Linked DNA regions of Homo sapiens. The protein of the gene in region 2 interacts with the protein of the main gene of each other region in a pairwise test. Each region holds a gene or a part of one and is shown on either strand. Other genes may lie near its edges. The genes, in order: TRMT11, DCDC2 and CYTH4.

What was found.
Region 1: the proteins of DCDC2 (region 2) and TRMT11 interact in binary tests that used the Homo sapiens proteins (3 or more experiments, as listed by UniProt).
Region 3: the proteins of DCDC2 (region 2) and CYTH4 interact in binary tests that used the Homo sapiens proteins (3 or more experiments, as listed by UniProt).

The regions. Positions count from the first base shown.
Region 1 is NC_000006.12:126,010,458-126,014,108, forward strand, and holds part of TRMT11 (tRNA (guanine(10)-N(2))-methyltransferase TRMT11), read left to right. Parts: exon of another isoform or gene 1-182; intron 183-467; exon of another isoform or gene 468-734; coding exon of another isoform or gene 735-795; coding exon 796-960; intron 961-2,313; coding exon 2,314-2,395; intron 2,396-2,512; coding exon 2,513-2,644; intron 2,645-3,651. UniProt on the Homo sapiens protein: Catalytic subunit of the TRMT11-TRM112 methyltransferase complex, that specifically mediates the S-adenosyl-L-methionine-dependent N(2)-methylation of guanosine nucleotide at position 10 (m2G10) in tRNAs.
Region 2 is NC_000006.12:24,347,911-24,351,561, reverse strand, and holds part of DCDC2 (doublecortin domain-containing protein 2), read left to right. Parts: intron 1-3,651. UniProt on the Homo sapiens protein: Protein that plays a role in the inhibition of canonical Wnt signaling pathway. May be involved in neuronal migration during development of the cerebral neocortex. Involved in the control of ciliogenesis and ciliary length.
Region 3 is NC_000022.11:37,295,863-37,299,513, forward strand, and holds part of CYTH4 (cytohesin-4), read left to right. Parts: intron 1-136; coding exon 137-203; intron 204-1,701; coding exon 1,702-1,820; intron 1,821-3,363; coding exon 3,364-3,444; intron 3,445-3,651. UniProt on the Homo sapiens protein: Promotes guanine-nucleotide exchange on ARF1 and ARF5. Promotes the activation of ARF factors through replacement of GDP with GTP.

The DNA.
Region 1 (3,651 bases), about 100 Mb from region 2:
AATAATTATAGAGCAAACATGTAACTGCCTCCTAAGTGAACAAAAAGAATGTTATTCAGCCTTATGGAGTCAGTATAAGATTATATGCTGATAACTCCAAAGTCTGTATATTCTGGCCTTCAACTACCTGCTGAATGTCCCCACTGCGTATCTTTTTCTGAAAGTTCTGCAGGTACCTCAAGGTACATCAAGATTGATATATCTTAAATGAATCTAATCTTTTTTCTTAAGCTTGTTTTTCTTCCTGGTTTCTCTGATATTAATCACTGGTGTCATCATCCTAAACTATCATGTCTCCTAAACAAGGAACTTACGAGCTTCTTTAGCCTTCCTTCCACTCCCACTTTAACTTTCATTAGCAATGTCTCCATTTTGCCTCCCTTCCTCATGGTCACAACTGCGGCATTTCCCAAGTTCGCTCTCTTCATTTCTGTTTCATTTATCTGATTCATACTATCTCTACACAGGACTGTTTACTGCTGGAAGAAAGGAACCATATTCTCTTCAACTCTATCTTACTACAAAAATCTTCGTACTTGAAAATATCGAATGAGTGTTTTAAGGCAGTTTTACTTGGAAGTTGACAGAACAAGATAAGTTAGACATCAGTACATTTTACTGTTATGTTGAAATTAAAATAACTATTTACTTGTATACATAAAATTAAGATTTTAAATGAAAGCAAATTTTGAATAAATGTAGGTTTCAGTGAGTTAAAACATTACTTTTCCTAAATGACAGAAAATAAGAATACTCTGTTTAATACTTTCTCTCTTCCTTTTTCTTTCCCTTCAGGAAAGGCTACTAGGAAAAACCAGAAGTGGAGAGGACCAGATGAAAACATTAGGGCCAATCTTCGTCAATATGGTTTAGAGAAGTATTACCTTGATGTCCTGGTTTCAGATGCATCTAAACCTTCCTGGAGGAAGGGCACATATTTTGATGCAATCATTACTGATCGTAAGTTTATTTTTATACAAAAGTAGGAGTAGGATTCGTTTTGTAAAATCATTTACATTTAAAGTACAAAATTTACCAACACATGCACAAAATGCCAACTTGTCAGTATTTCTCCCATCTACCCCCAGCTTCTTCATCTTGTAAGGAGAAAGTTATGAAGGTACTTAACTACCTTGTTAAGGGCTTACTGTTTTGTTTTTTTAAACAAATATATTGGCTTGCCATCCCCTGTTATATCCTTTTATATTAACTTGTCACCCGTTTTTCCCTTCAGCTTATTTTTTTGAGGCATATATTTAGTATTTGTTTTTGTATTGACTATAATTGGTTATTATACCAACTGGAGCTCACATGTCATTTGCAATTATGGTGTCAAATTTTGAACAGAGTTTCAGATATCACACATTTCTCTATGTGTAAGCATTTGTGTTTTTGTAGTGCCTGTTTTCACTGGCATCTCCTTTCTAGCATTACAAGAAATTTGGGGTTCTGTGGAACCACTGGGCCTGTGAACCTACTGAGCTTCAGGAATGTGCATGAAAATTTATTTTCCCATGCCTCATGAGGTCGTGAGTTTTTTAGGCAGCCTATCTAAGAATAGATCTGCCTTTTCTATAGTATTTGACAGTAAATCTGTAAAAAGTGGCAAAGTTCAGCCCTTCTATCTCAGCTCTCTTTAGTTCTTTACTAACTTAGATTTTGTCAAATGTAATGTAACAAAAGAAAAATTATCAAGGCCTTATGGTTTCAGTGTGAATATACTTTATGAAAATTTAGTTTTTTTTAAATTAACAGTTTGCTTTATTATTTGCTCTCCCACTCTGTGTTTACTTATATAAAATACATTTTTTTTTTCCGATCAACTTGAGAGTAAGTGGTATACATTGTGGCCTTTTACTCCTATACTTCAGTGTGTATTTACTAAGAATAAAGATAGTCTCTTAGCAAAAATACAGTTATCAAGTTCAGTAAATTGATAAAATACTTTCATCTACAGTTTGCCATTCAGTTTTGTCAACTGACTCAGTAATAGCTTTTATGGCATATATTCTCCCTCTAGGACAGGATCTACTCTAGAGTCAGGTATTGCATTTCGTAATGATATCTTTTAGGCCTCCTTTAATTTGTAACACTTCCACAGCTTTTCTCAATGACTTTTATGACATTGACATATTTTAAGAAGACAGTTGCTCCTCTCCCAAGTCTTTATGTTGTACATTTTCAGTTGGATTTGTGCATTGGTGATGTTGTGTTCTTCTCAGGGTGTCACATTTGAAGGCAGCATGGCTGTTTGCCCTTGATCCATGATTTGGTGACTTTTGACTATCTGTGTTACCTTTGTTTTCTGTCTAGCTCCATATGGTATCAGAGAATCTACAAGAAGAACAGGTTCACAGAAGGAGATACCAAAGGGGATAGAAAAATGGGAAAAATGGTAAGTGAAATTTAAATATGATGTGTTACTACCTTGAGAAGAGGCATGTGGCTTCCCCGTTAACTTAGCACTCTTAAAATTTTTCACTGATTTTGAAATTTTCTTTTCTTTGTGTAGTCCAGAAAGCCATGTTCCTGTTTCCTTGAGTTATCATCTGAGTGATATGTTTCTTGACCTGTTAAACTTCGCAGCTGAGACCCTCGTTTTAGGTGGAAGACTAGTCTATTGGTTACCGGTGTATACGCCAGAGTATGTAATCTTAATTTTATTTTTAATTTCATTTTTCTTACAATGTTTGCGTATCTAGTATAATTTTCTCTTTATCTCTTCTTGCATTTGGTGCATCTTTATATTTAATTTGTAATAGCCTTTGTTTGCCTTCAAATGTGTATAAAATAGTCTTTTTATTTATTTAGTTTTTTGAGACAAGGTCTTGCTCTGTCACCCAGGCTGGAGTGCAGTAGTGCAATCGTGACTCACTGCAGCGTTGACCTCCCAGGCTCAAGTGATCCTCCCACCTCAACCTCCTGAGTAGCTGGGACTACAGGCATGCGTCACCATGCTCAGCTATTTTTTATTTTTATTTTTTGTAGAGGTGGAGTCTCACTATGTTGCCCAGGTTGGTTTTAAACTTCTAGGCTCAAGCAGTCTACCTGCCTCAGCCTCCTGAAGTGTTGTGATTATAAGAGTGAGCCACTGTACTCAGCCTCCTTCTTTTCATCAACTGAATTGTTTTGACCTTGTTATTTTATATCAGGGGTTGGCAAACCACGGCCTATGGGCCAGATATGGTCCTCAGCCTGTGTTTATAAGGTTCTTGAGCTAGGACTAGTTTTTAGATTTTTGAAGTGTTGTTAAAAAATATCCACACAAAATAATGTGTGACAGAAACATACAGTATGTGACCCACAAAATCTAAAATATTTACTCTCTGGCCCTTTATAGAAAAAGTTTTGCCAGCCCTTATTGTACCCTACACTTAGCTTAGTACCTATGGATCACAGCTGTTTTATAGCTCTTTTGCCAGTCTATAGATGTAATTTTCAACAGCTTAGCTAAAGGATTCACGCTTCTGCTACCTTCTAATGCTAGCTTTAATATATATTGGCTATTATGATTATCTTAAGTACAATAAATCAAAAGCTAAGACCAAAATAAGAGCTGTGCATATATTTAAAGCCCTGATTATGTTCAGCATTATTGCTTTGAGTTTTGTTATTCAGTAACTATTAAATATAAAGCTATATATATTAACA
Region 2 (3,651 bases):
CCCTGCTGTGGCCTTTTATTTCTTCTCAGTCCTTACCCATAAACCCTTCTAAAGGAGATGGAAAGAGAGAAGTAGAAGAAATTGTGAAATGCAAAGGAGATGGGAAAAGGTGTTCAGAAACTGCTTGTCCATGCTCTTTCCCGCATCTTCCACTCACTCATGCCCAGCTTTCCCACTTGTTCGCTAGAGTCCTCTCTCCCACTCTGCCCTCCTGTCCTAAAGTTTCCTCCAGGTCTGGACAAGCAGTGTGTTCACTTCCCTCACTTCACATGTCCAGTCCGGAGATACCTTCCTCCCCAAAGTTCGCACCATGACCTTCACCCTCCGAAGTCTGCTTTAAGCAAAGGCAGCCCCTACTTTCATTGCCAGAAAGAAAGGTTTTTGGGTTCTTGGCATCTCAAAAGGGAACTATGAAAGCATTTTTCTTCTGGAAATATCACTTTGACTCTGAATTCTATGGTATTTTTACGGCTGTTTTAGGTAGAGCACGAGTGGAAAAGGGTTTTGCAGGCTGCCCTGAGAACCTAATTATACTGTGTGATTTTTAGTATGGGAAACTACCTTTCTCTTTCCCACAACTGATTTATAGTCAAACTTTTGGAGTTCAACAAGTTGATAAGTTGGAGGATGATCTATGCTCAAAATTTGAGAACAGACTTGGTAGAACACTGGCATTTCACAAAAATTATAGATCTTTAAAAATCTTAGGTGGGTATTTCCTTTCAACATTAATGTGTTGAGAAAAGATTGCACATCTTGTTAAGTGCTATTAAGGATGAGCATTCTTTGGAGTATGATGATATATAAAGGGAGATCAATAGAGAATTATTTTTGAAGTGGATTTAGAACATGAATACTTCATGAAATTGGAGGGTTAAGAGTTGTTTCAAGGGGGAGTTTCAGTGCCGTAGTAGCACAAAAAAATTCAAAAATGTGTCATTATGAGGGATGAGTAAAATAACTTACTCACCAAAATGGGGGGCATTTCCTTCAAATCTAAGGTAATTTTGAGTTTTCAGTGATGGGCCTGCATAATAAAAGCCACCACCCCAGTATACACAATTCAGTTTTTCTGGTTGCCTAAAACATACTAATTCTAATTATTCCGAGTACATTTTATACGGAAAGACCTTTGCATTTCAGTGGAGTCATGCAGAGTGTGTGGCACTGGGTCCTACCCACTGTGGCTGGGACACCCTTTCAGTGAGTGCTGGGAGTTATTCCTTCTCCTTTTCCAGAGCAGCTCACCCAAGACCATGGGTACGATTTGTTGCTTTTACGTAGTTAATAATTTAGACAAGATGGCACCTGCTTATTGACTTCAGGTCATGCTAACTAGAATGTGCGTGTCACCTTGACATTGGAAATGCTTTTGTGGTTTGTGTCACTGCTTGCTTGTTCCATGAGGCTCATCTTTGAAGAGATACTTAAGGACAGCCAATGCTATTCCTCTTCCTCTTTATGGCCTCATGATGGGTTTGGGGAAAGGCAGAACTGTAATGGACCTAACCCAAAAGAAGCATAGGGTCCTATTTGGTGAACACTTTGCACAGCAGGAAGTAATGGGGTGGAGGGGGGGAATAAAGAAACAGAAGAATAAAAGAAAGAGGAATAAGGTGACTCTGTGGTTGTTTGCACCCACCTCAGAGTCAGGGCACCATATGGGCTCAGAGCAGCCTATCCCTGACTCTCTACACCCAGGTCCTGCTTTTACTAATATCTAAATAAACAGATCTCCTGGATTGCCCTTGTACTCTTTTTGTGCTCCTGAGTCATTTTGCATAGCTATATTTTCATTTTTCCTCCCACTTTCCCTGTGTCAGTGGTGGTTTAATGAAGACAGTTTTCTTAGCTTCTGACCGTGGTAACTCATCTCCTTGTATTTATGACTTCCCAATCCTCTCTTTGCTTCCTCGTGTCCCACCTCTCAGTCCAGTTTCACATCTCATTATATCTTCTAAGTCCTAAGTTGATTTACCAGCTCCTTTCTTTCCTCTTTACCTTAAGCAGCCTGTGGGAGTCCTCTGTCCTCATGCAGTTGGAGACCTCTGATTCTGCATGTGTGATGCCTTTACCAGCACTTACTCTTGCCCCTACCCTTCTGCTTTACTGAATGTGATTTCTGCTTCCTCTCTTCTTGTTTTCCTACCTTGTCCTCTCTGCTTCCATGTTATTGAATGCCTATACAATGCAGTGGGCAGAGTAAGCAAAATGATTAAGACATGCATGACCTCTCACATCCAGGAATTTATAGTCTTGCTGAAAAGACAGATGAGCATCTCTAGTACTACATCATAAGTGATTCGATTTAGTAAATATAGTTTGCATTGAGCCATTTAGTTCAAGTGCTTCTGGCTTTATCATGTTGCAGCAAAGCCATTTGTGGACCCTTCAAATGGAAGCGTCCTTCTGCTTTGACCTGGCATTGTAGATCTCACTCTTCATTCCTGCACCTCATGTCTCATCCATGTAGTACATCCTTCAAATAATGACATTCTTTTTTTTCCATAACCATTCAAGGTGGAATTAATGACATTCTTAAATAGATATTTAGAGTACAAATCTGTTTTACTGTGTAAGGGGCTTTGGTACATGTTATATAGAGAGGGGAAGAGCAGGCAGCTTGACTTTGGAGCACTTAGATGGGCTGGGAACTGTGCTAGGCACTAGGCATAAAATGGATACTTCACTGCTCTTGCTCTTTGGGAGTTCAGCGTGTAGGAGAAGAGACAGAGAAGTAAACTAGCTATGATTATCTAGTGGCAGGTGGCTGTGCTAGAGGTGTGCTCAGAGGACTGAGGAAGTGCAGATTGGATTAGGGTTGTGGGTCAGCCAGTTTGAAATGGTTTAAAATATAATAGACCCTTTTGTTTTTTAGCCTGCTTCTCTTAGATCAAAGTTTTGAGAAAGTCTTTTTCTACAACTTGATTAAGAGGGTATTATTTAATAATTATATCTGTAAGAGTCAAAATCAGTCTCTAGCAGAAAGAGTGAAAATCAGCTTGCATGGAAAAGAGGAAAAGGTCGCTTTGCTATTAACCAGGCTTAGAGGATAGACACATTTAAAGCCAACTATAAAATTAACAGGAAACATTGTTTCTCCCATGGTGGCACAGGGCTGTAAAATGCCACAAGGATCCCTTCTTTGAGTGATGACTGCTTTCTTACTGCTGATGCTCTCAGACTTGCTTTGCTATTCCCATCTTTTACGGAGATCTTTATTGGATAAACTTCTCTTATCTCATACAACCCCTGGTTAATCCCTGATTCTTTTAATTTCACCTTAAAAACAGAAACCAATCTAGAACTGATCTCTGTTTCCCTTAGCTCTTCAGAATCCTTCAATGAGATTCCAAACCCTACAAACCTACAAACCCTCCTGCCTCTTTGTCACTGTCATTTTATGGATTCTTTAAGTGCTGGCACTTGCTACACCAAGTCCACACATCTGATTTTGTCAGACTGCAGGCTTGTTCCTGTTAGACTTCTGATTAGGCTTTAACATATACATCAGAGTTGTCTGTTAGATTGTGGTCTCTAGGAGGTCTGCTAATCCTGTATCGTACCCACCACGCTGAAGACTGGGAATTGTTTAAATTTGCCATGGTTTTGATCTTCCTTTTGGGCCAATTTAAGTAGATGTCCATTTGC
Region 3 (3,651 bases), on a different chromosome or scaffold from region 2:
CCCATGCAGGACCCGGAGGCCACACTTGGAGGGCCCTAGAGGGGTATGGGCTCCTGCTGAGGCAAGGGTCCTTGGGGAGTGGAGAGGGTAATTCAGGGTCCTGGGGCAGCCCAAGCTGACGTCCTCATGTCCACAGCCGGATGGCCCAGAAGGAGAAGGAGCTGTGTATTGGGCGCAAGAAGTTCAACATGGACCCCGCCAAGGTAGGTGGCTGTGGAGGGCCCGGGCCACAGGGTGTGGGGGCTGCATGGGAGCACCTGCCTGGTGTCCTCTCGCTCCCCTCGGCTGACACGACCCCTTTCCAGAGGAGGAAGCTGTGCCCAGCAGAGCTGAGCATCTTGTCCAGTGCCCCATGGCCAGCTGTGGCTGGGCGCCCTGTCTACTCCCAGGCATACACGCCTTGGGGCAGGAGGAGCCAGGAGCATGGAGGAGGCCACGGTGTCCATGCACTTGGCCTAGTCCCTTCCCCACTCTGGGCCTCCATTTCCTTCTCCATGAATGTGGCTTGGGACAGTGGAGCTCTTGGATCTGGGGCTTAGGCTCCAGAAGCATCTTCCAGCCCTGGGCTCAGGGAGGGCCAGTCCTGCGGTCCCACCACCCACCCCTCTGCTAGTAGGAGCAGCAGCTCAGGGCTGGGTTACCTCGATCCCCCACACCACTCCCAAGCCCCTGGCCTCACCCCACCAGGTGGCAGCTGGGCTTCCATCCTGAAAGGACGGAGACAGAAGGAAACCGCAGGCAGACACACCGAGGTGGGGTCAGGTGGCCAGCAGAGAGCACCAAGCTGGGGTCCCTGGAAATTTACCGCTCTGGCTTAGAAGGCTCCCTGTCCCCATCACAGGCCCAAAGTGTTATAACCATTCACCTCTCATGGCTACAGACCCTTGGACTCCTGCTCCTACCCACAGAGACCCCCGCAGGCTCACACTCTCACCCCACCCAGCACCCAGGGGTGTCCTCTGCATCCTCTGCCTGTCACTGGGCCCTCATGGCCTGTGCCCAACTTCCAGCAGTGGAACACAGAGGAATCTTCACGGAGAGCCAGAGACCAACCCCTCCAACTCCTAAAACTAGGATGACAAACTCTGAGTGCCTTGGTGGTGAGGAGAGGTGCTTGTGATATTGTCAAATCCGAAAAACAGATTTAAATGTGACAGGCATGGTCTGAGCCCATTTTCACATAGAAAGGGAAGGAAGGTCACCACGATGGAAGCTGTCTGCCTCCGAGCGGTAGGGCCCGGGCAATTTCCTCCCCTTTGGATTGAGCTGGTTTTTCTAACTTTTATACAATAGACATAGATTACTTGTGTGAAAGAATGAAACGCTATTTTTAAATAATATGAGTTTTAGGGGAACAAAAGAAATGGCTGAATCATTGAATCTCAGAATCACAAATTCCTAGAGTCACTGAAGCATATAATCAAAGAATGTCAGACTGAGGGGGACCCTGGGGAGTACCTGGCATGAACCTGGTTCATGGCAGGAAAGCTGACTTTCTTTGCATGCCTCCAGTGATGGGGAACTCATCACCTCCCAAAGGCAGCTCCTATGAAAGAGGGGTCAAAACTTCCCAGAACAGACTGTGCCAACACCAGAATGCCAGGCTCCAGGATTCTGGCCATGGAAGCTCCTTCCTCCCTTCCCCCTCCCAGGCCTGCTTCCATGCAGCAGCTGCTCACGGCTTCTGTGTACCCCCTCCAGGGTATCCAGTATTTCATTGAGCACAAGCTGCTGACCCCTGACGTCCAGGACATTGCACGGTTCCTGTATAAAGGCGAGGGCCTCAACAAGACAGCCATTGGTACCTACCTGGGGGAGAGGTAAGAACGAGTGGAGCCTTAGCGAGGCAGGAAATGAAGGTGTGCAGGTGTGTACAGGTGTGTGGATGTGCAGGTGAGAGGATGAATTATGTTAGCAAAGTCATCACTCCTAGTGCTTGAGGGGCTCACGGATCATCCCCTCCAGATTCTGAGTCAAAGCCTGACTGCCTTCATTCATTTAGTCATTTATTCAACAAATAAATGTTGCTCAGGGTCTACTGTGTTCCAGGCACCATCCTAAGCCCTGGGTGTACACCAGTGAATAAGACAGACAAAACTCTTGTCCTCAGGAAGTCCATGCTAGTGGGAGAGACAGGTCTCAATAGTTGTAAAATATGTTAGAGAATGATAAGCTCTGTGGAATACAAATCGAGCAGGGAAGGGAAGTCAGAAATGCTGGGGACCGGCCAGGCTCGGGGCTCATGCCTGTAATCCCAGCACTTTGGGAGGCCGAGGCAGGCAGATCGCGAGGTCAGGAGTTCCAGATCAGCCTAGCCAACGTGGTGAAACCCCGTCTCTACTAAAAATACAAAAATTAGCCGGATGTGGTGGCAGGTGCCTGTAGTCCCAGTTACTCAGGAGGCTGAAGCAGGGGAATCGCTTGAGCCTGGGAGTCGGAGGTTGTAGTGAGCCAAGATCACGCCATTGCACTCCAGCCTGGGCAACAGATTGAGAACGAGACTCCGTCTCAAAAAAAAAAAGAAAAGAAAAGAAAACAAAGAAAGAAAGACATGCTGGGGACCATAGGTTGGGGGCTGTGATTTAGAATAGCGTGGACAGGAAGGGTCTCATGGAGAAGGTGACATTTGACCAAAACGTAAAAGAGGTGAGGGCATGAGCAGTACAGACATCTGGGGGAGGAGCGGTCCAGGAGTAGCAAGTAAAAAGGCCCTGGGGTCAGAAACAGGCTCAAGAATCTAGACTGGACGGGAGGAGAGAGGAAGGATATTGTGGGCGAGGAGGTGGGGATCTGTGGGAGCGCTCTGGGCAAAGGACTGGTCTGAGGGGTGGGCGAGTGGATAGGGGTGAAGCTGGACCAGAGAGTCAACAGCCCTCTCCCCAGCTCCCAAGGACACCCCTCCCTCCCGCGGTGAGCAGGGGATGCAGACGGTGAGAAGGGCACCTTCCTGCTTCAGGAGCTGGGGAGAGGGAGGAGATGGGGGAGGTCAGCTTCTCTCCCTTGTACAGATGAGGAAGCTGGGGCTGGGAAGGTCAAGTGGCTTCCGCGAGGTCACCAGGTGGGAAGTTACAGGAAATGAGGAAGGCCTGGACTGAGGGCAAGGCCGCTCCAAAGCCAGGGCTCCCCTCCCAGGCCAGACCAGCGCTGGTGAGCCGTGAAGGTGTGTGTTCCTGCATGGGAGGACAAGGGTGTGCCCTCAGGGTGTGATATGGGTGGGACAGATGTGAACACACCAGATGGCAGCTGGACCCCAGAAGGACAGATGTCTCTGTCCTCTCCCTCCCCCACCTCAACCCCCTCCAGGAGGTGGGTGCCAGCAAGTATCCAAGTGTGTCCCACCCTCCCTTCCGCCTCCTCCCCCAGGGATCCCATCAACCTGCAGGTCCTCCAGGCCTTCGTGGACTGCCACGAGTTCGCCAACCTCAACCTCGTCCAGGCCCTCAGGTGAGTAGTCCTGGGGCAGGGTCCCGGCCCTCAAGGGTGGCACAGCCCCAGTGGCTGGGGGTGTCGCGATCCACATAGCTGACAGCACAAACAAAGGGTTGGGAGCAAAGAAGAGGAGGCAAGGAACAAGAATGACTTCATGATAGTACTGCCTCACAGAGCTGAGCTGGACCGCCTGGGAAAGGGCCTAGTTCCTTGCAAATAGCA